4 linked regions of the Homo sapiens genome follow. The protein of the gene in region 1 purifies or fractionates together with the protein of each later gene. This does not show direct contact. Each region holds a gene or a part of one and is shown in the gene's direction. Other genes may lie near its edges.

What was found.
Region 2: the proteins of MTA3 (region 1) and CHD3 purify together in Homo sapiens (affinity purification with mass spectrometry; 4 studies listed by BioGRID and IntAct, with this or other methods). This does not show direct contact.
Region 3: the proteins of MTA3 (region 1) and ZNF219 purify together in Homo sapiens (affinity purification with mass spectrometry; 4 studies listed by BioGRID and IntAct, with this or other methods). This does not show direct contact.
Region 4: the proteins of MTA3 (region 1) and BCL11B purify together in Homo sapiens (affinity purification with mass spectrometry; 2 studies listed by BioGRID and IntAct, with this or other methods). This does not show direct contact.

The regions. Positions count from the first base shown.
Region 1 is NC_000002.12:42,753,604-42,757,450, forward strand, and holds the end of MTA3 (metastasis-associated protein MTA3), read left to right. Parts: 3' UTR 1-3,343; downstream 3,344-3,847. UniProt on the Homo sapiens protein: Acts as a component of the histone deacetylase NuRD complex which participates in the remodeling of chromatin.
Region 2 is NC_000017.11:7,905,765-7,912,796, forward strand, and holds the end of CHD3 (chromodomain-helicase-DNA-binding protein 3), read left to right. Parts: intron 1-91; coding exon 92-225; intron 226-358; exon of another isoform or gene 359-496; intron 497-788; coding exon 789-933; intron 934-1,104; coding exon 1,105-1,267; intron 1,268-1,361; coding exon 1,362-1,483; intron 1,484-1,588; coding exon 1,589-1,724; intron 1,725-1,836; coding exon 1,837-1,938; intron 1,939-2,126; coding exon of another isoform or gene 2,127-2,129; coding exon 2,130-2,255; intron 2,256-2,637; coding exon 2,638-2,746; intron 2,747-2,932; coding exon 2,933-3,065; intron 3,066-3,378; coding exon 3,379-3,574; coding exon of another isoform or gene 3,575-3,620; intron 3,621-4,663; coding exon 4,664-4,827; intron 4,828-5,082; coding exon 5,083-5,209; intron 5,210-5,699; coding exon 5,700-5,821; coding exon of another isoform or gene 5,822-5,940; 3' UTR 5,941-6,991; downstream 6,992-7,032.
Region 3 is NC_000014.9:21,089,577-21,095,687, reverse strand, and holds the end of ZNF219 (zinc finger protein 219), read left to right. Parts: intron 1-2,013; 5' UTR 2,014-2,096; coding exon 2,097-2,102; intron 2,103-2,397; coding exon 2,398-3,823; intron 3,824-4,145; coding exon 4,146-4,277; intron 4,278-4,547; coding exon 4,548-5,152; 3' UTR 5,153-5,611; downstream 5,612-6,111. UniProt on the Homo sapiens protein: Transcriptional regulator. Recognizes and binds 2 copies of the core DNA sequence motif 5'-GGGGG-3'. Binds to the HMGN1 promoter and may repress HMGN1 expression. Regulates SNCA expression in primary cortical neurons.
Region 4 is NC_000014.9:99,269,188-99,277,118, reverse strand, and holds the start of BCL11B (B-cell lymphoma/leukemia 11B), read left to right. Parts: upstream 1-4,921; 5' UTR 4,922-5,900; coding exon 5,901-5,958; intron 5,959-7,931. UniProt on the Homo sapiens protein: Key regulator of both differentiation and survival of T-lymphocytes during thymocyte development in mammals.

The DNA.
Region 1 (3,847 bases):
ACCTCGCTTTCTTGTCAGAGACCTCGCTGTTACGGAGCGAGACCTGCTGAGAATTGAGGGGCTGAGGGAACCCCTCCACCTCCTCCCTTCTGCAGCGCCCTGCGCCCCACCCAGCAACAGCGGCCACTTGGCAGTGGGGCTGCTGCAAGCTCAGAGCCGCTGCCACCCTGCATGTGTCCGCTCAGCTCGGTCTTATGCTGTATAGTTACTAAATATGTACAGGAGGGCCATGGCATCTTTCTGAATGGATTTTTCTTAAGAAATGCGCCAGTGTTTATGAGGTTCAAGGTATTTCCCTGTCCTTGCTGTTACCGTCACTCAGCTTTTTCTCGATAGGCTTCATCCTTGTTTTTTTGAAATGGGGGAATTTGCTGTTTACCCTCTGCATTCCTATATGTGACCCTCCCTCCTACTCCTCCAAGGAACAGAATTACCGAGGTTCTGACAAAAGATAAGCCTGTAAACTCATCATCTGTGTTTTGTGGTTGGAGAGAAACTGGTGTTCTGCCCGGCTCTGCTTGGTCACAGACAGCTCCAGCAAGAGCAGTTGTTAAAAGTGCCAAGCGTGTGTATCACTGTGACAAGCCGTTTGCTTACTGCCCTGTTCCCTTGCAGCCAAACCAGCTGATGAAGAACTGCTGCCAGGTGGGTCCTACAGCAGGTCACAAATGACCTAGTTTCATTTTAAGCAGACAGACTCTGTTTGGCCTAGAGGTGTGGAGTGAGAGAACTGTGTTTGTGGGTATGAGTCTGTGTGGCCAACCCCATGACCCCCACCCCTCCAGCCCAACATCTTGTGAGCACATGTGACCTAGGCCCCGGGGGACCTGCCTGCTCCTTTGGCTTGGGCTCTTCGTGTTTCCCACCTGCCCTCGGCACGAGCCCTTGGTGGCATCACAGTTGGCCACTCAGCTGTGCTGAGTAGCTGTGCTACTTGTGCTGGCAGCTGCAAGGATAGGAATAGCTCAGCGCCCGATGAGCTCCCTGAGCAGATGTGAGGCTGGCAACTCCCCTGCCCTCTGTTTGCAGGCACAGGGTCACAGTCCCAAGAAAGACAACTGGAGTCTGATCTCCCAGCCATCTCTGGGGTTACTAGGAGGCAGCTGGATGGCAGATACGAGAGGCCCAAATAGCCAAGCTGTTGCAAGACAGAGTGGCTACAATTGAATTGACACCCTGGGAAGCACGAGGTAACTTGGTAAGGATAATGATGCTGTAGATGTCTGTGTCCTCGGAGGCTGAGCTCCGCTTGGCAGAGAGAGCGTGCTGTGTGAGGTGGAGGGCGGTTTTGCAGACATCTCAGCTTCTTTTCTGAGGAGGAGTTGGTTCTCATCTTAGGCTTCTGCAAGGGCGAGCATGGGATGTCTCCACCACCACCCACTCTTGGAGCTGTGCTGGGTCTTGGCTTGGGGCGCTGAGGGTGGGGCCTGTGTCAGAAGCATTTGGTGAGAGGGGTGGAGGTGGCAGGCAGGGGTTCTCCTCAGGGTTCCCACTGAGGGGTCCCTTCAGCAAAGACCTGGGAGGAGGTGCCGCATCACGTGGATGTTTCTTCCCTAAAGAAAAAGACACAGGAAAGCTGTCTGTCTGTACCCTGCTCTGGATTTATTGTCGTACTTGGACCCAGAAGGGGAAATGATTCCCTCACCCTTTCACTTTCTCTCTGAACCCCTACTAAGTGGTGACTGCAGATTCTGGAAACAATTAGCTGCCCGTGACTCAGCTGCCAGCTTCATTTTCTCTGCCTTTTGGGAGAGGCCCTCTCACCCAGGCCCAAGAGATTTGGAGACAGGAGTCAGGCCAGGTCTGAAGCAGGAGAAGGGAGGCCCCTCCTATCTACCCAGTTGACATTTGGCTTTGGGAAAAGCGCAGCTTGTTCGAGCCACGTGTGCCAAGCAGGCTTTTCCTTCCTCTTGTAAGTAAAGCTCGTGGTTCTGTAGTCCAGTCATCCTAGGAGGGTGATGTTGACTGAGACTTCACGCTCTCCCTTTGTCTCTGGAAACTGCCCCCTCGTTCTGACAGAATCCCCCAGGCAATGGAGGAAGGGTGCCGAGGCGCCTCTAGTCTGTGCCTTTGCCGTTGGAAGCATTTGGTGCTGAGAGGGTTTCCCAGCCACCCGCTCCCTTTCTGGGGCCATGGTGTCCCTGCTGTGTGTCAGTGGCATGTCACTGTGGTTCAGTGAGCACATGGGTGGACGTGCAGAGACTGTCTGCGCAGCCCCCAGCAGACATGCCCCTGGGGTGAGGACACAGGCTCTGCAGGCTATCTCCCCCTCTGGCTCAGTCATCGCCTGCCCACCCTTCACTTCTTAAAGGTGCGCAAGAGAGGAGGGCCGACTGGAGGGTGTCGCCGGAAGGTTTCAGCCTGCCCTTCACAATTCCCCTTGTGCACAGCCCAGTTTCCATCTCTCAGGGCCCACCCAGGAAAATGGATTTCAAGTGGGGGTTTTCATCCAGAGATTTGTTTAACACAAAACAAGAAAAGCTGAGAGGCAAAACAGGGGAGTGAGGGGCAACCCAGAGGTGGGGAACAACAACAGCAAGCCGCCCCCATCCTGAGACTGGCTGGGCACCAGGGGAGGACGCGTCACCAGAGCCTGGGGCCAAGGCCACTGGGGGACCTGCCACACTGTGGACCTGTCTGGTGGGGGCTGGAGCCTCGAGAAGCCATGATTCTTGTCAGAAACATTTCCCCAGGCAGAGAGAGGGGGCCCCAGCCTCTCCCCTCCTCTTGGCCTCCAGAGTCCTGCAGGTGCCTCACAGTAGTGAAACCCAGTTGGAAGCAGCTGCCCTGGGAGCCTGGGACAGGCGACCCACCGGGTCAGTCCCCTGCCACTCAGAGCAGAGCAGGGGGCTGAGGGCAAGCAGGTGGGGCTGTGCGTGGCCTCAGTGCACTCGGTGTCATGTCTGAGCCTGGTGTTTATGCCCCACTGCTGTCCTAAGTCCCTGGCGAGGGGAGGTGGAGGAGCTGCCCCGTGGGTGTTTGGAGATTCTGTTTTACTCTGCCTAGAGAGGAAACGGCTTTGGGGAGGGAGGGGGAAGCCTTTATTCTTTACTGTTGTCCCTGTTTTCCTTTGGGGGAATTTACTCAGTTAGCAGCCCCTCCTCACCATTCCCCCCAGGAAGGCCATGTCCCAGTTTTCTGTCCACCCCTCCTGTTCCTCTGCACTATGTCTCTGATTTTCCCTGCCAGGGAAGCTAACCCAGAGCACGCACCTGTGCTCATGAGTGTTTCCGCAGGATAATTCGTTCTGAGCATGATACCACAGTGTGGATTGTCTGTCTGTAAGGAGATGCCATCTACTAACCAATTTGTATTGTGTTTCCAATAAATTCCTGGAAATTTTGCCTGGTTTTATGCTGTTCTTTACTAGGATGATGGCTCAGGTGTAAGACTGTGCACGCACCCCTAGGCCCAGCCTCAGGTGGTCCTTGTTTCAGAACCTTGAGCTCCGAGGGCCCCGGGGAGGTAATAGGCCAGGCCAGTTGGTCTGCTGTGCCCCAGCTGCACTGAGACTCTCAGAGGCCTTTCCCCAGGGTCTGCATCTTCTTCTGCTGTCTCATAAGCCACATCCTGGGGACATGGAAGTTTCACGAGGCGAGGTCACCCCAGTAGGAGGCCTTTGACCCTGTGCCCCCAGGCCTGGAGGTATGAGGTGTAATAGGCAGCCTTTTTCCCGTGAACTACCCTGCAGTGTGACTTGTGCCCTGCTGTGGCCAGTGCTGGGTTGTGGGGATGGGTGCTGGGGTATTCAGGTGGTGCACTGAGGAAGGCTGCTGTGCCCCAACATGGGGTTTGCTGTTTGGCTGGCTGTTTGTGTGGACTCTGTCTCAGCTGCTGTGCCAAGGTC
Region 2 (7,032 bases), on another chromosome or scaffold:
GAAGTTGGTGCCTGGATCACTGAAGGTAGAAAGGACAAGACCTAAGAACCCTAGACATTTGTCGCCATTGCCTCCTTGCTCCCACCCTCAGGTGCTGGGCTTCAACACCCGTCAGCGGAAGGCTTTCCTCAATGCTGTGATGCGCTGGGGGATGCCACCACAGGATGCCTTCACCACACAGTGGCTGGTGCGGGACCTGAGGGGCAAGACTGAGAAGGAGTTTAAGTGAGTGTGGGTGATACAGGGCTGAGTTGGACGCAAGGGGAAGAGCTTTGGGTGTTCCTTTCTTCCTTGGGGCCGCCATATGATGTGACCTTACTCAACTGATTATCACCCTCCCTGTCATACAATACTTCCTGGCTCGATTTCCTGGGGGGTGGTCTCAGCCCACTCCACCTCCCCTCAGCCGAGCCTAGAGTAGAGGGGCCAGGCATCCTCCCCAGGGGAGGGGCGTTGAAGCAAGGAGCCTCTCCTGGGCTGTCCTAGCCTCACATTTACTTGACCACAATAACCTGGCAGGAGGAGCTGGTGGAAAGGATGAAGAGCTGACTGATGGGGCCCAGGAATTAAGTACCAAGGCCAAAGGGAAAGACCCAGGGGTGGGGCGCAGGGGGACAGTTAGGACTTGGAGGGCTGGTAATGGTGAGAGTGAGAGGCCCAGGGGAGGAGCCCTGGAGCACCTGGGGATTTGGGGGTTTGGGGGTCCTCAGTCATCCTCGCGCCTCCCTCACTGCCCTATACCCCTTCTGTGGCTCCCCTAACCCTCCTCCCACTCCCATGCTCCTTAGGGCCTATGTGTCTTTGTTCATGCGCCATCTGTGTGAGCCTGGGGCAGACGGCTCTGAAACCTTTGCCGATGGGGTCCCTCGGGAGGGACTGAGTCGCCAGCAGGTGTTGACCCGCATTGGAGTCATGTCTCTCGTCAAAAAGAAGGTATCAGTCTTCCTGTCACCCAAAGAATCAAGCTGGCTGCCTAGTCTCTGTCCTTCCTCTGCCTCTGTCCCTGAGTTGTAAGCTTGCGCTGGTGTGAGACGGAGGAGACTGGAGCTTCCTGTCTGTAAGCGCCTGGAGCTGACACCTAACCCTCCCACCCTGCCACCCCAGGTGCAGGAGTTTGAGCACATCAATGGGCGTTGGTCAATGCCGGAACTGATGCCTGACCCCAGCGCCGATTCTAAGCGCTCCTCCAGAGCCTCCTCTCCTACCAAAACGTCTCCCACCACTCCTGAGGCTTCTGCTACCAACAGTCCCTGCACCTCTAAACCTGGTAATCAGAAGTCAGGATGGTGGGAGAGACAGAAAGGGAGCCAGGAGTCAGGGCGGGAGAATCTCTGTCTTTATCACTGTGCCTTCCCCTGCAGCTACTCCAGCTCCAAGTGAGAAAGGAGAAGGCATAAGGACACCTCTTGAGAAGGAGGAAGCTGAAAACCAGGAGGAAAAGCCAGAGAAGAACAGCAGAATTGGGGAGAAGATGGAGACAGAGGTGTGTGGCTCCCTGGATTCCCCTGTGGAGCGGGAGGGGAGGGGGCTTGGAGGCCAGGTACCTGGGAGCCCTCTGGCTCATCCTGACCCCATTGTCCTCTTCCAGGCTGATGCCCCCAGCCCAGCCCCATCACTTGGGGAGCGGCTGGAGCCAAGGAAGATTCCTCTAGAGGATGAGGTGCCAGGGGTGCCTGGAGAGATGGAGCCTGAACCTGGGTACCGTGGGGACAGAGAGAAGTCAGGTGGGTGCATGGCCTTAGGAGTGATGGGGGATTAGAATTTGGGATTTCCCTCTTCTGGGGTCAGGGGATGAGGGTAACATCCTCCCTTCCTATCCCCTACCCCCTCCCACAGCCACAGAGTCGACGCCAGGAGAAAGGGGGGAGGAGAAGCCGTTGGATGGACAGGAACACAGGGAGAGGCCGGAGGGGGAAACAGGGGATTTGGGCAAGAGAGGTAATGGGTGGAAGGGACCGGACACCTGGGTCCCAGAGGGCATCAGGGGAGGTGGAGTCTGGGGAACCGAATGCTTGGGTCCTGGGCGGGTAGCTGTTTGAAAGGCCAGTACAGTACAGTACAGATAGTAGTCTTGGGACCTGGGAGGAGGGTGTCCTGAGGTGTGAGCTTTGACCTGTCTGTCCTAGCAGAAGATGTAAAAGGTGACCGGGAGCTTCGACCAGGGCCTCGAGATGAGCCACGGTCCAATGGGCGACGAGAGGAAAAGACAGAGAAGCCCCGGTTCATGTTCAATATCGCCGATGGTGGCTTCACAGGTTGGGGAGACTCTCGCTGCTTTCTGCTCCTCAAGGGGATCTGCTCATCCTCATGGGGTTTCTCGTTTTGCCTGAGGCTTCCTGCTACCTTTAATTCCAAGTAACTTCCAATGAAGTATGTTGCATGCTGACTCCGATCCTTGCTCTAAATCTTTCTTAAGTATCCCTCTTAACTCCAAAGCTGGCCCTAATCCCACCTTTATTCTTAATTCTAACGAACCTGGTTAGAACTGAGTTTGTTCCAAACCTAACCTTTACCCATTCCTCTTCAGGAGCCCTTAGTTCCCTTTCATTATTCAGTTTCTCCATCTCTACCTGTCTGTTGGACTGAGTGCAGTCTGCAAAACCCTGTTACCTCTTCTGTCTGCTGCCTTCTTTGCAGAGCTTCACACACTGTGGCAGAATGAGGAACGGGCAGCTATTTCCTCGGGGAAACTCAATGAGATCTGGCACAGAAGACATGACTATTGGCTTCTGGCTGGGATTGTCCTGTATCCTTTGATACACATGCAAGAAGGAAAAGGTTCTCTCAAGCTGGCAAAAAAAAAAAAGATGATTTCACACCCAGGGACAGGGCTAGTGCCACACTTTGGGGAGTCAAGCCAAAAGGAAGAAGTGTTCAAAGCCAAGCCCATTCCTGTTAAATTCCTTGATGGTTCCTTTTCCTTCATTGGTAGCCATGGCTATGCACGGTGGCAGGACATCCAGAATGATGCTCAATTTGCCATTATCAACGAGCCATTTAAAACTGAAGCCAATAAGGGGAACTTTCTGGAGATGAAAAATAAGTTCCTGGCCCGGAGGTTCAAGGTGGGAATGAGGGAGGAAAGGAGCGGGTTATAGACGGGCTTGGGTCAGAAGTGAGACCAGATCTAGTTGGAACCTAGGGAAGGTTAACACCTTCAGGGCTGAGGTGATACCTGGGGCCAAGACCAAAGTGTAACCTTGTGCTTGGGAGTGTGATCTGGGTCAGGGTTGCTGCTAGGTTCGCAGTCGGTTTGGAGCTGGGAGTGCCCTGGGCCAGCAGTGAGGGCAGGGTGGGTCTCTTGCTATGTCCGCCCCCCCAGCCCCTCACCCACTGCTGGCAGAGCCCTACCTTCACCTCCCAACTCTGTGCCCTCAGCTCCTGGAGCAGGCGCTGGTGATTGAGGAGCAGCTGCGGCGGGCGGCCTACCTGAACCTGTCGCAGGAGCCGGCGCACCCCGCCATGGCCCTCCACGCCCGCTTCGCCGAGGCCGAGTGCCTGGCCGAGAGCCACCAGCACCTCTCCAAGGAGTCGCTGGCGGGGAACAAGCCGGCCAACGCCGTCCTGCACAAGGGTAAGGGCCGCGGCGGCCCCGCGCGGGGGAGGGCCCACAACGCTGCGTAAGTCTTCACCCCGCACCCCTCAAAATCTTCCCACCCCCTGACCCCTCTACCTGCTGAACCATCCCCCTCTGACCTCTAACCCCACTCCTACCGACCTGGCACCCCCTTGGATTTTAGCCTCTAGGACTTGTGCAAGCCAACCCTCATCCATGTCTGATAGCATTCACATCCGTGCCCAATAGAGGGACCTGCCCCAGCCTCTGTGTCCCCTCCACACAGTGGGGCCTCTTCACTGGCAGTGGAACTGCATGCCTGCCATACTGCTTAACATCATCCAGTTAGGGGCCTTGGACTGTGAATGCACCATACAGATCCCTGGCTGTGATCAAACAAATCACATTCCCTCACATGTGTTTCACCCCATAAGGCAGAAACTACCACCCATCCAACCCTCTGGCCTTACCCCATGAAACTTCCCTTTGACCTTCGACCTTTCCTCCTACCCCCTCTCACCTTGCCATTGATAGAGATTATATCCCAAAGCCCTCTAACCATCTAATCCTGCCTGGTGTAGTCACTGACTCCTGGCCCCTTTGATCCCTGTTCTAATTCCTTGAATCTGTAATACTGACCTTCTAACCTCCCTCTCCCCTTACATATTAAAACCGTGATTCCTTAAAGCTTTGACACTTACCACCTCCCATGCCTCCTGACTATTTCCTCCCCATCATCCCCAACCCCAAACCTTGCTCTTCCAGTATGAGATGTTCTGACAACTCCCCGCCCCCATGTCTTCCAATGTCCCCCCATCTTCCTTTCCTCCATGCTCCCTTTTTCTTTCTTCTTTCTCTCCATCTGTCTTCTGTGGTAATCTGGTCTCTCTGTCTCTTTTCCTGACACTTTTTCTTTTCCCCTGAGTTGCTTCTGTTTTCCATCTACTTCTTTTACTTTCTTGATCTCTGGTTCTTTGACATCTGTGTTCTCCTCTCTCGCTCTTTTTCTGCCTGTATCTGTCCATCTGATGCCTCTCTTTTCCTGGCTCCATCTCTGTATTTCCCTGTCTTTCTCTTGCCCTTCTTTCTCTGTGGCCCGGGCCCCAGTTCTGAACCAGCTGGAGGAGTTGCTGAGCGACATGAAGGCGGACGTGACCCGCCTGCCAGCCACGCTGTCCCGAATACCCCCCATCGCAGCCCGCCTTCAGATGTCCGAGCGCAGCATCCTCAGCCGGCTGGCCAGCAAGGGCACGGAGCCTCACCCCACACCGGTAACCCTCTTTCCCCCTAGCTCCAGTTTTCCCTGTTTGTGTTCCTCCTGCACACATACAAACACTTCCATCAGAATCCTATACAATATGGAAAAACAACTTGCTAGAACACAGTCATCACCCTTGAGTGAGTCTCCCTGCCTGTGTATCCTACCCTTAGCAGTTGTGGAGTGTGGCTCATAATGTCTCTCCTACAGCTTCTTTCCTCTCACAGACTATGAACTAACTCCAACTTCTGCTTCCTCTCTGTTCCAGGCCTACCCGCCGGGTCCCTACGCTACACCTCCGGGGTACGGGGCGGCCTTCAGCGCCGCACCCGTAGGGGCCCTGGCCGCCGCAGGCGCCAATTACAGCCAGATGCCTGCAGGGTCCTTCATCACAGGTCAGCTGGTGTTTTCCTACCCCCTGCTACTCACACTCCTCCTTTGCCAAACTTTATTTCTGCTCAGCTGCCCTTTAACTGCTCTAGTCCATCTCATTTCCTTGGTGGTATCCGGTGTTTTATGGGATAGAGTTGTTCTAGGCTGTCCCCCCACCCATCCCTTTCTTAACCCCTCTTCAGTCCCCTTTATTAAAAACCAGAGTTTTAGTAGATCTGTGGCTTGGTGTCTTCTACCCGAGCCACCTCCCTCCGGGTTCCTTCAAGGGAAAGTGAATATGAAACCCGAGGGGTTAGAGAGTGGGAACATGTGTTCAATCATGTAGCACAAAGTGGAATCTCAGGGAAAGGGGTTTGCCCGGGTCTTCCCTCCCTCACGTGGGACAACGGGAAGTGGCAGGAGGTGACCTAGAAGTGAGAATTCACCATTGTCATGAAGTGACGTTTGAGAGTGATCTGGAGATTGATCTTTCCTTACCCCTTTCCCAAACAGCCGCCACCAACGGCCCTCCAGTGCTTGTGAAGAAGGAGAAGGAAATGGTGGGGGCATTGGTGTCAGACGGGCTGGATCGGAAGGAGCCCCGAGCCGGGGAGGTGATCTGTATAGACGACTGACTGGATCCCAGGCCTGCCCTTCACCCAGGCCCCGTCCCCGAGGCCGACCCCCAGCTCAAGCGCTGGGGCCTGCTGCCAGCCCTCCACCTTCCCCACCCCTTGGGCCATCACTGGGCTAGGAACCCCTTTGCCCCTCTCTGCAGCTCCTCTCTTCAAGAAGGGCCCTTTGTCTTTCTCCACTCCCACACACCTTTCCCACCAAGCCTTGAAGACTGTGCTGGTGAGAAGAAGTCTGGGTGGGAGATGGCTGGCAGGGTCTTCCAAGTACCTTCCTCCCACACTGCCAAGTATACACAACTTCCCAGTAAATGGTTGTGGGGAGGAAAGAGGTGGAGCCTCCCCAGCCGTTTCCCTGCAGAATCAGCTCTGTCTCATGTGGAAGTGGAGAATCAGCCTTGCCTGGCCTTTAGGAACTTTTGTGGGGAAGAGAGCTTTGAAGAGAGGAGGGGGACTTTAGAGAGGGATGAAAATGAGCCCTGGGAGGGAGGAAGGGACGAGGAGGGGTGGCTGCATGTTACCGTCCCCTACCTCTCCCCACGTGGAGGGTGGAGCAGTTATGAGGGAGGAAGTCAACTGCTGTTCAGCCTCAGAATAAAGGTGCCGTTCACTGGCTCAGTTACCTCCTGTGTACCGGCATCTTGTGTTGGGAATGTTCCCCCCTCCCTAGGGACCAAGGACCACCCCTACAAAAAGAGTAATGGTTGGGTGATACTCCCTCAAGCCAAAGAGGAGCTCCCCAACCTGTTCTAGGGACCCAGGTAACCTAGAAGGGTGGGAGAGAATACAATGGGCCAGATGTGGTGGAAGCCCAGCTCTGGGGCTCAGGTTCCTGGAAGACTTCTACTACCCTCCCTCCTCAAGGCCTGGATACAGACTAAATTTGTATAAGTCAGGCAGGGGACCTAGTCAGGGTCTTGGGAGCTACCTTGTCGTTGGGACCAGAGCAAAATAGTGGAGGGCAGGCTAGGGAAATGTGGGCACATCCCCCCTCCCAGGAGGGGCCGGGGAGAGTGGCAGTTTGCATGGCGAACCCCCCACTTCCTCTTTGCTGCCCCTTCACTTTCTTGCTGCCCCTTTCCCAGTCTCTCTTCACACCCACTCCTGGTCTGTCCTGATCCCCTCTTCTGTATCAGGTTTATTGGTTGTACATATAAATTATACTTTCCTTTCTGTGTGCTCTGTTATTTTTTATGGGGGGGGGGAGTTTTTGG
Region 3 (6,111 bases), on another chromosome or scaffold:
TCTAGCACCTCATAGCTCTATCTATGGTACTGAGGTGGCCCAAGTGGCTTCTGTGGTAGCCCACTGCACTCTCCATGGTACTGAAGGGATGACCATTTGTTTTAACATCTCTCTGGGGTCCAAAAGAGTCCTGTGACTTAGAATCACAAACTTTTTTCGAGCAGGAAGGGACTAACACTATAAATTAGTCCAATCCCCTTATTTTACTGATGAGTAAACTGGGAGGTTAAGTGATTTAGTAAAGGTTGTAGGGTTATCAATGTTCAGACTAGGCCTACAATAGCCTTGTACCCTTCAGTCCTATTCTAATTCACCTTTTGTGACACTATTCAGTAAGCCTGGCTAGGCTCTTAGTCCCAGGAAAGGATCCAGAGGATGAGAGTGGGTGCCCTAATTTGAAGCTACAGAAATACACATATTAAGTGGTAGTGGAGGTCGTCTAGTGACCCTTGGACAAGGACACTTTGTTAATTAATCATCTGCTAATAATAATCCTATAGCCCAGATTCCACATGTAACAGGTACCTGCCCCTTCATGGAGTTTTACCACATCCACTAAATGTCAAAAATTAAAGAAGCCTTGGACCTCCAGAGCCTTTTCTCTCTGCTGACAGGCAGGTTGACTCCTGGCACAGTTCTTTTCTATTAAAGATCCTTAGGCAAAGTAATGCTTGCATCTTTTTCTTTCTCAGTAACCCATTTCAGTTTTGTGATGCCTATTGTAAGGAAGTTCTTTATATCTCAAATATCCTTTCTTAGACAAAAAAAAAAAAAAAAAAAGGTTAGACCCACATTCATTTAGCCTTGACCAGATACTATTCTATATGAGGCAGAAAGGTAGACTAGATGACTTCTGGTCATCCTCCCAGGTCTGTTTCCATGAATCTTGATTCTGGGGTTTCTTCTAAGTCCTCATGCTAAACTCCTCTGCAGCTTAGGATCAGCACCCGCCCCCCCCCCCAACCCCTATCCTCTTCCTCTCAATGATCTTCTCCTTCCCCAGCACTGGAGCTCTGCAAGTCCCAGGCCTAGGGAATTTTAGCCTGGAGAATTTTAACCCTTTCCTGCTCAGAGCATGTGCTGAGTCCCTATCTGTGCAGATGGCCCAGCCCCGCCCCCCGTCCCTCACTCCAGCCTCTTGAGCTCAGAGCCAGTGTAATCCTCCTCTTGTGTGAGGGAGCCTCTCCCCTGCAGAGAGGAGGAAAGCCTGCCTCGGAACAGCCCTGGACAAAGGGGCTCAGATGCCCCATCATACTGCAGGCTCCAAGGTTTGAAACAAGGGGATGAATCCTATACGGTATTTGCAGTTTTTAGCCCCTTCCCCAGGCTAGCTGTGCCCCTTAACTTCCACTCCTCCCCCAACTCTCTCTTCATTCCCTCTCCCTCTGGCTCCCTCCCCCTTCATGCCCCTCCCCCTCTGTCTGTCTTCAGACTCTGCTGCTGGGAGGTGTTTCTCTCCCATGCATGAATGAGTCTCTGTAATGAATGGAAATGAATGGATCAGGAATCCAGGCGGAGGGAGGGAGAATGAGGGGGGAAAGACAGAAAGACAGGGTAAGGGCAGAAGGAAGCACTGTGGAACCTGGAAGGATGTTTGGCTGGCTGCTCAGTTAGGGATCTCAGAGCAACTGGTCCCACTTGGATAAATGGGGAGCATGGCAAGCCCACCTCATTTGCTCACCACACTGCATAGCCCAACCTACATGGGAGAGGGGCATATTGTGATGGTCTTCCCCACCGCCAGGGGGTGGGGTGGTAGCTGTGGTTGTTCTGGACCATGCATTTAAAATATAGAATTTGGGGAAGAAATCTGGATTATCTGGGAGGCTTGTAGGCTTGGCAAGTCAAGAGGTACAGTTTTTGAGTATAGCAGCCCCTTCGTGCCTCAAGAAGCAAGTAGGGAGAATGGATTGGTTTTGGGAATACAGAATGCTGAGAGTCTGGGGGTAGGGAGTGACTTTACTGCTGAAAACTAGGGCTCATCTTTTCCTCCAAATCTGTCTCTTGCTTTAGCTCCACAGCACCTGTTGCCTTCATTAGCAGCTTTTCCTCCTCTTCCCTGCACTTCCCAGAACCAAAGAATGTGAAGGGGGTCCATGGAGGTGAGTGAAGCTCTGGCTTCAACCTACAAGTACCTACAACTGTATACTCCCTCTCCTGCCTACCTCTCTCTCTCTTTGACCTCCCATTATTAGAAGTTAACTCCTTGGCCCTGACATCTCGATTCCCATACACCTCCCCCCACCCCATCTTCCCGAGGTGAGTAGCACCCTGTGTTCCTAGTTCAGGCCCCAGCCCACCTTCCCTCGTGTTGTCCTTCTGGCCCTCGAGGCGACGCCCTTGCTTCCTTTACAGCTCTACCTTCACCCTTTGCTCTACGCAGATCTTTCTCCACAGGGCTCACGTCCCCGCGCCCCGAGCGGCCACTTAGCGCCGTCGCCGCCGGCTTTCGACGGCGAGCTGGATCTGCAGCGATACTCCAACGGGCCAGCCGTGAGCGCAGGGTCGCTCGGGATGGGAGCGGTGAGCTGGTCTGAGAGTCGTGCAGGCGAACGGCGCTTCCCCTGCCCTGTATGCGGGAAGCGCTTCCGCTTCAACTCTATCCTTGCTTTGCACCTGCGGGCGCACCCAGGAGCCCAGGCCTTCCAGTGCCCTCACTGCGGCCACCGCGCGGCGCAGCGGGCTCTGCTGCGCTCGCACCTGCGCACACACCAGCCCGAGCGCCCACGTAGTCCTGCTGCACGCCTGTTGCTGGAGTTGGAAGAGCGCGCGCTACTACGCGAGGCCCGACTGGGGAGAGCCCGAAGCTCAGGGGGCATGCAGGCCACCCCTGCCACTGAGGGTCTGGCGCGGCCCCAGGCTCCTTCATCGTCCGCCTTCCGTTGCCCCTACTGCAAAGGCAAGTTTCGCACCTCGGCGGAGCGCGAACGCCACCTGCACATCCTGCATAGGCCCTGGAAGTGCGGCCTGTGCAGTTTCGGCTCCAGCCAGGAGGAGGAGCTGCTGCACCACAGCCTGACGGCCCACGGGGCTCCCGAGCGTCCCCTGGCGGCCACCTCCGCTGCGCCTCCGCCTCAGCCTCAGCCTCAGCCTCCACCCCAGCCCGAACCCAGATCAGTCCCCCAGCCGGAGCCGGAGCCGGAGCCCGAACGTGAGGCAACCCCGACCCCAGCTCCTGCCGCTCCCGAGGAGCCCCCAGCGCCTCCGGAGTTCCGCTGCCAAGTGTGCGGCCAGAGCTTTACACAGTCTTGGTTTCTCAAGGGCCACATGCGTAAGCACAAGGCCTCCTTCGATCATGCGTGTCCGGTGTGCGGCCGCTGCTTCAAGGAGCCCTGGTTCCTTAAGAACCACATGAAGGTGCACGCCAGCAAGCTGGGCCCACTGCGTGCCCCGGGGCCTGCCTCCGGGCCTGCCCGCGCCCCCCAGCCTCCTGACCTCGGCCTGCTGGCCTATGAGCCGTTGGGCCCAGCGCTCCTCTTGGCCCCGGCTCCCACCCCGGCCGAGCGCCGTGAGCCCCCGAGCCTCTTGGGCTACCTGAGCCTGCGAGCTGGCGAGGGCCGGCCCAACGGCGAGGGTGCTGAGCCCGGTCCCGGCCGCAGCTTCGGAGGCTTCCGCCCGCTGTCCTCTGCTCTCCCGGCCCGGGCTCGCCGGCACCGTGCGGAGGAGCCTGAGGAAGAAGAGGAGGTGGTGGAGGCCGAGGAGGAAACCTGGGCCCGGGGCAGGTCGCTGGGCTCTCTGGCTTCCCTGCACCCGCGCCCGGGTGAGGGACCGGGGCACTCTGCCTCTGCTGCTGGGGCCCAGGCAAGATCGACCGCCACGCAGGGTATGTAGGTACCCTCCGCTCTCCGGGTACGCCGCGTCCTCCTCTGACTCTTACGCCGCCACTCCCTCGTAGCTTCCTTGTTAAAAGAACTTACGTTTAATTTCTCCTGAGTTTTTTTGTTTTGTTTTGTTTTGTTTTCCTGGAGGCTTTGCCATCATTTGAGAACACTTAACTCTTTAGTCACAACAAATCTAACCCCTCAGACTTTGTTTCCTCCTGGACCCCGAGGGGAAGCAGCCCTATGGGATGGGTGTGGGGTGGGTGCGCGGCACCTGGACAGGGTGTGGGCCCCCCTGACTTCCTCTTAACGTATGTGTTGCAGAAGAGAATGGGCTGTTGGTTGGAGGGACCCGGCCTGAAGGGGGCCGGGGCGCCACCGGCAAGGATTGTCCTTTCTGCGGAAAATCTTTCCGCTCAGCACATCACCTCAAAGTGCATCTGCGAGTGCACACAGGTGAGGGAGGCAGCCTCCGGCGTGGAGAGGGGACTGGGGGCGGGCAGAAAGGTGAGGGCTACCGAAACACTAGGAGGTGAAGTTTGTTCCGAAGCCTTCAGTTTGGCTGGATGAGATCACTTGGGAAACGCTCCTTTATTAAATCAAAGTGGGTGGGAGACGCAGTGCCCTTTCTTGGTTCTGAGAATGAGGTCTGTAAATTGGGCGAAATTCGGGTGGGTGCGTGCAGTCATCGTGACCCCGTGACCCTATCGCACCCACTCTCCCCAGGCGAGCGGCCCTACAAGTGTCCGCACTGCGACTACGCGGGCACCCAGTCCGGCTCGCTCAAGTATCACCTACAGCGCCACCACCGGGAGCAGAGGAGCGGGGCCGGCCCCGGGCCACCCCCGGAGCCACCGCCTCCTTCCCAGCGGGGTTCGGCCCCGCAATCTGGAGCCAAGCCGTCTCCGCAGCCTGCGACCTGGGTGGAGGGCGCCTCAAGTCCCCGGCCTCCTTCTAGCGGTGCTGGGCCGGGGTCCCGTCGGAAGCCCGCCAGCCCTGGGAGGACCCTGCGCAACGGGCGAGGCGGTGAGGCCGAACCCCTGGACCTGTCCTTGCGGGCAGGGCCGGGAGGCGAGGCCGGGCCTGGGGGTGCCCTCCACCGCTGCCTCTTCTGCCCGTTCGCCACTGGAGCCCCAGAGCTCATGGCCTTGCACCTTCAAGTGCACCACAGCCGCCGGGCTAGGGGCCGCCGGCCACCCCAGGCTGACGCGTCCCCGCCCTATGCCCGAGTACCATCAGGAGAGACCCCTCCCAGTCCTTCGCAGGAAGGGGAGGAGGGCTCCGGGCTGTCCAGACCCGGAGAGGCAGGGCTGGGGGGGCAAGAACGGTAGTGGGCCCTCAGGGGCGATTAGCTTAGTGAGCTTACCCCGCCGGAGCGGGGGAGCGCTAGAGGTAGTTGGGTAGAGAAGCCAGCAGGGGGCAGCGTGGGACCCATATCCCAGCCCCAGGCGGACCAGAGGTGGAAGGCGCGGCGGGCGTAGGAGGGTGGGCTGGCGGTACCCACCCAGCCCAAGGGAGTCACAGTGCCTTAGAAGTGGCAGAGGTGAGGGTCAAAGAACGGGGTCCCTGGGCTGGCAGAGAAGGTTTGTGTCCCTGTTGAGGAGCCACTCTGCCAGTCTTTGCTGGTCCATAGGCGTGAGAGTTTATTTTTGTACAAGGGGTGAGGGTGGGGGGCACTGTACCCTTCTAGCCCCATCAGGGGCCCTGTAGACGTCGCTATTTTTGGTACGATTCCTGTCATCCCTATTGCAGAGTCGTGTCCCCAATAAACAGGTGTCTTGAGGCACAGGGCCCTGTGTCTGTCTGCCTACCTATGTCCTGCTTCCCTCTTTGGGTCCTTCTGTCAGGAAATAGTCACCTCTTCAGACACTTAGTTATCACCCAAAGAGTTTGATAAGAAATGCAGAATATTGGGTTTTACCCCCAGGTTTCGATGCAGTAGCTCTGATGGGGCCCAAGAATTAGCATTTAACAAACAGCCAAGCAAGTTCTCACGCACTGTGGCCTGAGGACCTCATTTTGAGAACTGCTGGACTGTGCTGGATCCCAGTTTGTCTGTGACCAGTTCAGCCTCAAGGAGTAGGTGCAGTGTGGGAGAAGGAGCTTCAGAGAGTGTGTGGAACCTCTGGGAGCCACTGTGGAGGAGACACATTCTCCCAGGCTCATACACAGTCAGCTAGCTCTGGGCCTGGGAGGGGTAGAGGGGACCTTCCAGTCTTGGTTTTATTTTCTGTGTTCTAGTTAAGGGCTGGTTGAGGGAAAGTGCTCAAGTTATTTATCACCTTAATCC
Region 4 (7,931 bases), on another chromosome or scaffold:
CTCCCAAGTCGACCAACTGGGTGATGCCAGTCCCTACCAAATTTGAATTGATGACTCAACTAAAGAATTAAAATTAGCAAGACAAGAAAATTCCAAATGAGGTGAGAAAGCTGTAGAAATAGTTCCAGATCCCCTAGTACTGAGCCATTCAATATCATTTCTGATGACAGGGACAGAGCTAGGAACATTCAATGTGGGTGTGAGTCCTTTTCATATACGGGGAGCTGGGTAAGTATTTTTTAAGGAAAATAATACATGAATCAGGAACAGTGAATTTTATTTAACCCCTTGCAGGCTGCAGATACAAAGGCAGCCGGCAATGATGCCTCAGTTTTCCTACAGCTTACCTATGCCTTATACAGTTAAGCAATGGTCAGAAATGTACTACTGTATCAAGGCCAGGTATTACTTGCAGAAAAAAATAAGGTGCCAATGATGTCATGTTTTAACAAAAGCAATGTTGTTAAATTCAGTACACCAAAAGAATCAACCAAACAACTGTTGAAAGGCAAGTTTTGTGGTCCTGACTCTGCTATCAGGTGACAACGTGAAAAACTCCTCTAAATCCAGCAAAGCTTTAATTGAGTGCTTATGGCTCCCAGAAATTTGCTGTAATTTTCAGAAATGACATAAAATAATTCTAGAAGATACAGCAGGAAGCCCAAAAGGCCTCTTTTGTCTTTTTATGCCTCTGGATTTGATAGCTGCTAAAGATTCTAGAACTGTAAGGAAAGAGATAAGGACCACCTTGGGAGCCTTATTAATATGTACATAAATATGATTTGCTTGGTGCCTCCACTGTGGTTTCCTCACAAGTTAGAATAAGTCCATCCACTGATCAGATCGGAACATCGTATTCATGTTCATCTTCTCAGTCAATAACACTTATAGATCCGGAGGAATAGAAATGAACAGACAGGGGTTGCTTCTGAGTCTGCCCTATACCTGTGAATATGAAACGATTTGCCCTCTCTTTGCATGGTTTTCTTCTTCTTCTTCTTCTTCTTCTTTGTTTTAAAGCACCAAAAATGAAGCCCAAAGTAATTTGGTAAGATGTGCTGTTGAATTGCTACAAAGTTGACTGCGTTTCAGAGGGTGGATCTGTGTTAAAAAGAAAACAACAAAAACAAATGAAATGTCAGTTTTCTTTCTGCAGAAACATTAGGACTTCCCATTTCTACTGACACGTCTTATCTTGATTCTTTCCAAATTTTTGTAAAGACATAAGAGATAAAATATAACAGCTCAGAAGGCAAAGATAACATTGTAGGATCTCGAATAGAGTCCAACCTCAGCTGAGTTAAGTATTGAGAATCGTTCAAAGAATTTTAAACAAAAAGCCTGGCTTGGGGGTCACGTGTCTGTTTAATCTGCCCCCACTGCATGGTGTGTTACACGCAGCACACACAGGGAATTAAAGCCCCACATAAGGTTAATAAAAATGCACTCTGATTTGATGAAATGATTTCTGATTTCTGAACTATTCCTCTATAAAGAAATTTAAAGTGACTGAGAATATGGAGGATTATCTGCTGGAATGCACTGTGAAGCTAGAAAAAGAATAGCAGGGAAATATTTGTGAGTTCAAAAAGCTTTTTGACATCTGCTCTGTGTGTGTGTGTGTGTGTGTGTGTGTGTGTGTGTAAAGATAGTGCAGAAAAGGTGGCATTTATTTCCATGTGATTCCAGCATGCACAAAGCCCCAGCTTTGGGCCCAGCACACAGTAGGTCTGCAGCAGGTGCTAGAGAAATGAACCTGGTTTTAAGATATTAGTTCAGGACCACATTTGGACCCACACTTTTTCCTTTTACATTTTCATATGTGAGCCACCTGCACCCTCTTTTTTGGGGGTGGGGAGGGGGCAGGAGTGACTTGTATTTTAAACAAAGGTTTGGTGAAGAAGAGGTGGGGTGGGGTGCGGTGGGGCGGTGCAGTGACCTTCTCAGGAGAGTCCTGAAGCCCCCTCTCGCCTGCCTGGGGTGCTGAGGCAGGGGTGGGTACATGGCTGTGGGCCGAGGTCGACCACCCCCCTCCCGCCCCGCCTGCTGTCTGGGCATCTAGAGAGTGGGGAAACATTAGTACGGGGCCAGCTGCGGAAGCCTGGCAGGGTCGAGGGAGAGGTCAAGGTCGGCCGAGAGGCGGCTATTGATCCGGCTTGGAACGTGAGACATGGAGCGCAGCAAGACTAAAGGGGGAGCTGTGAGACCAGACATTAACAGCTTTGCGCGCTGATGAGGCCCGTGCCAGACGGGCAGAGGGAAAAAGAGGAGACTGGAGTGGCAGCTGGGATCGCTCCCTGCCTGCGCCCGGCCGCCTCTCGGGAGAAGAGGAGGAGGAGGAGGAGGGGAAGGAGGGGGAGAAGGAGGAGGAGGGGGAGGAAGATGCGGAGGAAAAGGGGGAGGAGGAGGGCGAAGGGGCCGGCTCAAGGCTGGGCAGGGGCAGAGCAGCCTCTCCCCGGCTGCCGCGAGGTGGAGCGCGCCGGCGGGCGGCGGCGTGTCCGGCCCTGCGTCCGCCCGCCCGCGCGTCCCTCTTCCCGCCGTCGGGGCAGCGCGGGGCCAATGAGGAAGTGCTCCTCGGGTCCGTGGGGCACGCGCCGGCCCACGCCAGCTACTTCCTGCTGGGAGTGGGGAGGGGGTGCCCCCTCCCCAGGCACGGCCCCTTACCGCACGCGGGGTGGCGGCTGCAGCTGGGACTCCGAGAGCCCTTGCGCCGCTCGCGGAGGGGCTCCCTTTTCCTGAGGGGTCCTCCCCGTCCCGCCTTGCCACTGGCGGGGTCTGCCTTCCTTGTAATCAACCCCAGGAAGGTGAGGGTCGTGGGTCGGGATTTCGAGTCCCGGACCGCCGGCGGCGCTGGGCTGCAGGCACGCCGCGGTGTTTTGGGTCCAGACCTGTCCCTGACGCGCTGTGTGTCCTAGGGCAAAGTGCTCACCCTCTCTGGGCTTCACATCGCTAGTTCTCAGAAAGAGAGCGCGAGTTGATCTTTCAAATTTAGAGTCCGGGCGAGTAGGGATGGCCAGTTTATGAATGTCTTAAAGAAGTTTATTAAAGGTGCGTGTGGGCATATTTTTTTTAAGCCACTTTCCTGGAAAGATTTTCCCGGTGAGAGGGATGGCAGAAGAGGGAGGCCCTACTAGACTTTGGACCACGTGGAGGTGGGGTGTTGGGGGTGGGCAGCCGGGTGCAGCCTGCCCGGCCAGGGCGAGGAGGTGCAAGTCCGCGCCCCGCCCCCGGTCTCCATCCGCTCGGCCTCGCGTCCGCCCACCGTGGAGCCCACAGTTTACAGAACTGCAAGCCAGGGCACATTTTATTGTTATTATTTTTTAGGGTATGGGACTGGAAGGGATCTCTTTCTGTTCTCGCTCACGGACTCTGGGCGCTGTTAAATTGTTGGTGCCATCGCCCCACCCAAGACCTTCGGGACGAAAACAAAAACCCCCGTGTGCCCCCCGAGGAAAAGGCCCCGAGGGAGGCGGCGCTGAGGCGTCACGGCCTCGCCATGCGCCCGGGTGAAGCCGCCGGAGCCAGGCCTGGGGGCGGAGTGGGGTGGGTGCAGCTGGACTCGCCCGCGAAGCCTAGCCGGAGCCAGGCCCCGACCCGCCCTGGCCGCCTCCAGAGAAACCCTGAGAAGGGAGAGGAGGCCAGCCGCGTGGCGCGCCCAGCCCTGGAGGCCAGGTCATCAAATTGACAAAGTTGGCCACAGCCTGGGGAATGGGGGGTGTCCACGGGGGCCGTGGTCTGGCCTTGTCCCCGGGCCACGGAGAGGCCCCACAACTCCTCTTGTCCTCGCCGGTTGGAGATCAAACGGCTGACAAGGCAGCTGCGTCCTTCCCAGTCTGACAGGCATTTCCAAGTCCTACCCTGGGCCGAGGAGCGCGGGGGGCGGGGTGTGACTTCCAGGTTGCTGTGATTGTCAGGGGCGCCTCCTGGAGTCACCCACCCGAGTATCTGCGGAGATTTGGCCACACCTACTCCTGGGCTGGCAAGTCCAAGTCCCTCTCCCACGTGGAGCGCCCCGGTCCCTTTACCCTCTCGCTTGCCATAGACCCAGTTTAGGAGGTGGGGTCGTGTTTGACCCCAGGAGTTAATCGGGGTAAGGTGAGGGGAGGGGACAAAGATTTGAGTGAAAATCCTTTTCCAAGTGGGACTCAAACAAGGTCTCAAACACTTCTCACCCCCTCACGTGCTCTTGATTCTGTTGTCTTAGTGTCGTTTATTTTGTCATCCTCACCCTCCCAGAGTCTGTAATACCAGGATTTATATGGAGACACTTTTTGGAAGTTGAACTCCAACATCTACTCCCCTCCCCTCGCCGCCCGCGACCATAAAACAAAAGTAAAAACTACCAAGCGACTTTTCCAGGGAAACGAAGCGATTCTTACTGTCCCCCCAACTCCCATGTCGACCCCAACCCTTTTCCACAGTCCACGCCCCCACCCCCAAAGTCCAAGTCCGAAAGAGCTTTTGGGTGGGTGGAGACTTGCATTGATTCAATTTAGTTCACTCACACAGCACCCCGCCCCCCTTCTCAGGGGGTCCTGCTCCCAGGATGGAGGAGATATAAGGACGATTTTTCTTTTATTTTAAAATAAGCTGCCCAGTGGCCCCCCCCAACCCCCTCCCGCTGTTGCGCAGCCGGGGCTCGGGGGAGATGAGCGCACAAAAACGCGGTTTGCACGTGTGTCCGGCTTGGGCTGCGGGTGTGCGCAACTGGCGACTGTGTGTGTGTGTGTGTGAGTGTGCGCGCGCGCGCGAGTGTGTCTCTGTGTGTGCTTTCTTGTTCTCTTACAGGGTACAATGTTAAAAAGCCACCGCTAGTCGCCCCCAGTGCTCCGACTCTCTGGGTCTTTTTGTCTCTAGTGCAGATTAAACGTCACGTCCGCACTTGAACTTGAATTTTATCCCATTGTACAGAGGCAGCCCCAGCCATAGAGAGACCGAGAGCTCCCAGAGAACCCGGACTCCGCCATCTTCACGTTGCAATCTATAGCTCCCAGTCTGCGCCCGCACCGACCCAGGCGCACTGGGCGAGCCGCCCCTCCGCCCCGCTCCCCCCGGGCCCGCGGCGCCAGGGGAGCGCTGGGGAGCGCTCGCGGGGACTCGGCAGCCCCTCCGGCCGGCGCCAGCCTGCCAGGTGAACTGGGAAGGAGCCTCTCCTGGTGTCCCCCCAGAGCCTCGGAAGGGTCAGTCTCCGAGAAAAAACAAAAACAAAAACAAAAACAGGCAGCCCGCAGAAAACCCAGAAACAACCGAACCGGGGCAGTTTTACATTGCTTTGGGTTTTTTGAGGGGGCGGGGTGAGGGGGTACGAGACAAGTCCCCAAGTTTTCTTTGCTTTTTTTTTTCCTTTGCTTTTTCTTCTTTTATTTTTTTATTTGTTTGCATTTTTTTTCCCCTCCTGGTAGAAGTGCGCTTTCCACCTACCAGACCCTGAAAGAAAGTGTCAGGAGCCGGTGCAAAACCCAGTTTAAGTTCAAGAAGACATTTGCAAGTGCAAGAGGCCAAGCAGTTTGAAGAAGTGTAAGAGATTTTTTTTCCTTCGAAAGAATATATTTTTAAAGAAACCAGCCAGTCCGCGGAAAGCAACAGCAGTTTTTTTTTTTTTTGCCTCTTTTTCTTATTTTAGATCGAGAGGTTTTTCTTGCTTTTCTTCCCTTTTTTTTCTTTTTGCAAACAAAACAAAAAACAGCATAGAAGAAAGAGCAAAATAAAGAAGAAGAAGAGGAGGAAGAGAGGGAAAGAGAGGAAGGGAAAAAAAACACCAACCCGGGCAGAGGAGGAGGTGCGGCGGCGGCGGCGGCGGCGGCAGCGGCGGCAGCGGCGCGGCGGCGGCTCGGACCCCCTCCCCCGGCTCCCCCCATCAGTGCAGCTCTCCGGGCGATGCCAGAATAGATGCCGGGGCAATGTCCCGCCGCAAACAGGGCAACCCGCAGCACTTGTCCCAGAGGGAGCTCATCACCCGTAAGTGTCTGCGGAGTGCGCGCGAGGGGCCGGAGATGGGGCTCCGGGCGTCTGGGGCTGGGGACACCGAGCCCGGAACAGCCGAGCCTGGCCAGGCGCCGGGGCCGCCCGCTGGCTGGCAGAGTCTACGGCGTCGGCCTGGAGCATGGCGGGGGGCGGGGGCCATAGGAAAGTTTCTTTGCAGCCCGGGGAGTTGGGGCGCCGAGCAGCCGGACGCGCCTCGGGCTCGGGGGCCTGCGGAGCCGGCTCCGGGCCGGGGAGGGGGCATGCAGGCTGGAGGAGTGTGTGTGTGTGCGCGCCGAGCCCGGCTGGACGCTCGCCCCTCCGAGCGGCGTGTGTGGCGGCGGCGGCGCTGGTGGCGGGGTTTGGAGAGGAGGGGGAGGGGGCTGGGGGAGCGGAGGGGGAGGGGGAGCCGGGAAGTGGGGAAAAGTTGGCGAGCGCGTGGGTCCGCGCTGACGGCGCGGGCGGAGGAGAGCGGGGTGCGTTCCGGCTGGGGGAGCCGTAGGGCCAGGGGCGGCCGCCGGCTCCGGGTCCCCGGTCCCTGCGCCCGGCCCAGCAGGGTGCCGGCCGCGCCAGTCCTAGGATTCCGCAGCCGCCTTTCTCTCCCCTCCTCCTGCTATTTGCAAAATAATCCAGCTGCGCGGCTGTTTGCCGGGCTCAAGCCCCCCTCCCCACCCCCCACTTCCCCACCTCCGTCTGTCTCCTGGGATGATCTTGTCTTCTTTCCCCCACTTCAAAAAAGGTGGGGGGATTGGGGTTGGTGAAAAATCCCCGCCACGAGGAAAAAAAAAAAGGTTGTCAGTTAGGAGTGGGAAGAGAGTGATGCGCTTGTAAAATAGTAAAAGAAAAAAAAGAAAAAAAGGAGACCCATCAATCTCGTATCCATCTTTCTATCTCAGTATCTTTCATCTTTCCTATCTAAATAAACAAGGCAGGTCGCAGTGGAAATCCACCGGCTGAAATCGTGTCGATTTCAAGCATGTGGCTGGGCGGGCAAAGTCAGGCAGCGGGGCAAGACAAGCAGCAGCTTCCACCGTCCCTGTTGGGTTTATTTAGCAGAGGGGAAAAGCGAGCGCGAGCGGGCCAGGTACGGTGTTTGCAGGGGAACCCGCCCCGAGTCCCCGCACACTTGCACCGGGAAGGTGGCTTTGCGGCGCTCCCCGCCCGCCGCAGCCCGCGGGGCGGCTTCTTCGCTGCGCGCGAACATTTCCCCGCCGTTCTTTCTCTCGCGGTGCCTGGGTCGCCGTTCCTTTTTTTTTTTTTTTTTTTTTTTTTTTTTTTTTTTAACTGCAATAGAAATAAAACATCCTCTGGGTGCCATCGAGACCGCGGGCAGGTTATATGCTTGCAATCCGCCGCGCACCTCGCCGGGCTGGGGCCGGGCTGCCCGCGCGGAGCTCGAGAGGGCTGCGCGCCCAGTCACCGCAGAGGACTGGCTGCCGGGCGGCCGAGAGCCGAATATTTATGTTATATTTTAAAAAATTTAAATAAATAAATAAATATATAAAGTGGTTCTCCCCTCCCCTGAAAACCCAGCATAGGAGCCATCTGCTCGGAGCAATTGCTGTTGCCATCTCTCCTTTGTTACAGCAGATACATTAGTAAGAATTTGTGGATTTATTATGATTTTTTTTGGGGGGGGGGGAATAGAAATTAAAGTGGGATTCGCCTTGGGAGAGGGATGCCTCTTTGGAGGAAGGGAAGAGGACTTCTCTTTTATTTTTCGCCGTTGTAACACCAAAGAAGACTCGCCGGCTGCGTTTAAAACAAAATGTTTTGCAGCTAGATTTGAGCTTGGTTTGATCAAGGTCTTTTTTGCCAGTTGACATTTCGATCCTTTACCAAGCCACAGCAATCGCTTATTCTACACCCTTCCCCCTTTAGATGGGGTGGTTGTTAAAACGTCTATACTTGCAGAGGCTTAATTTCTCCAGGAGGCAATTTGCCCCACGTAGCCTCTGTATAATTGCAAG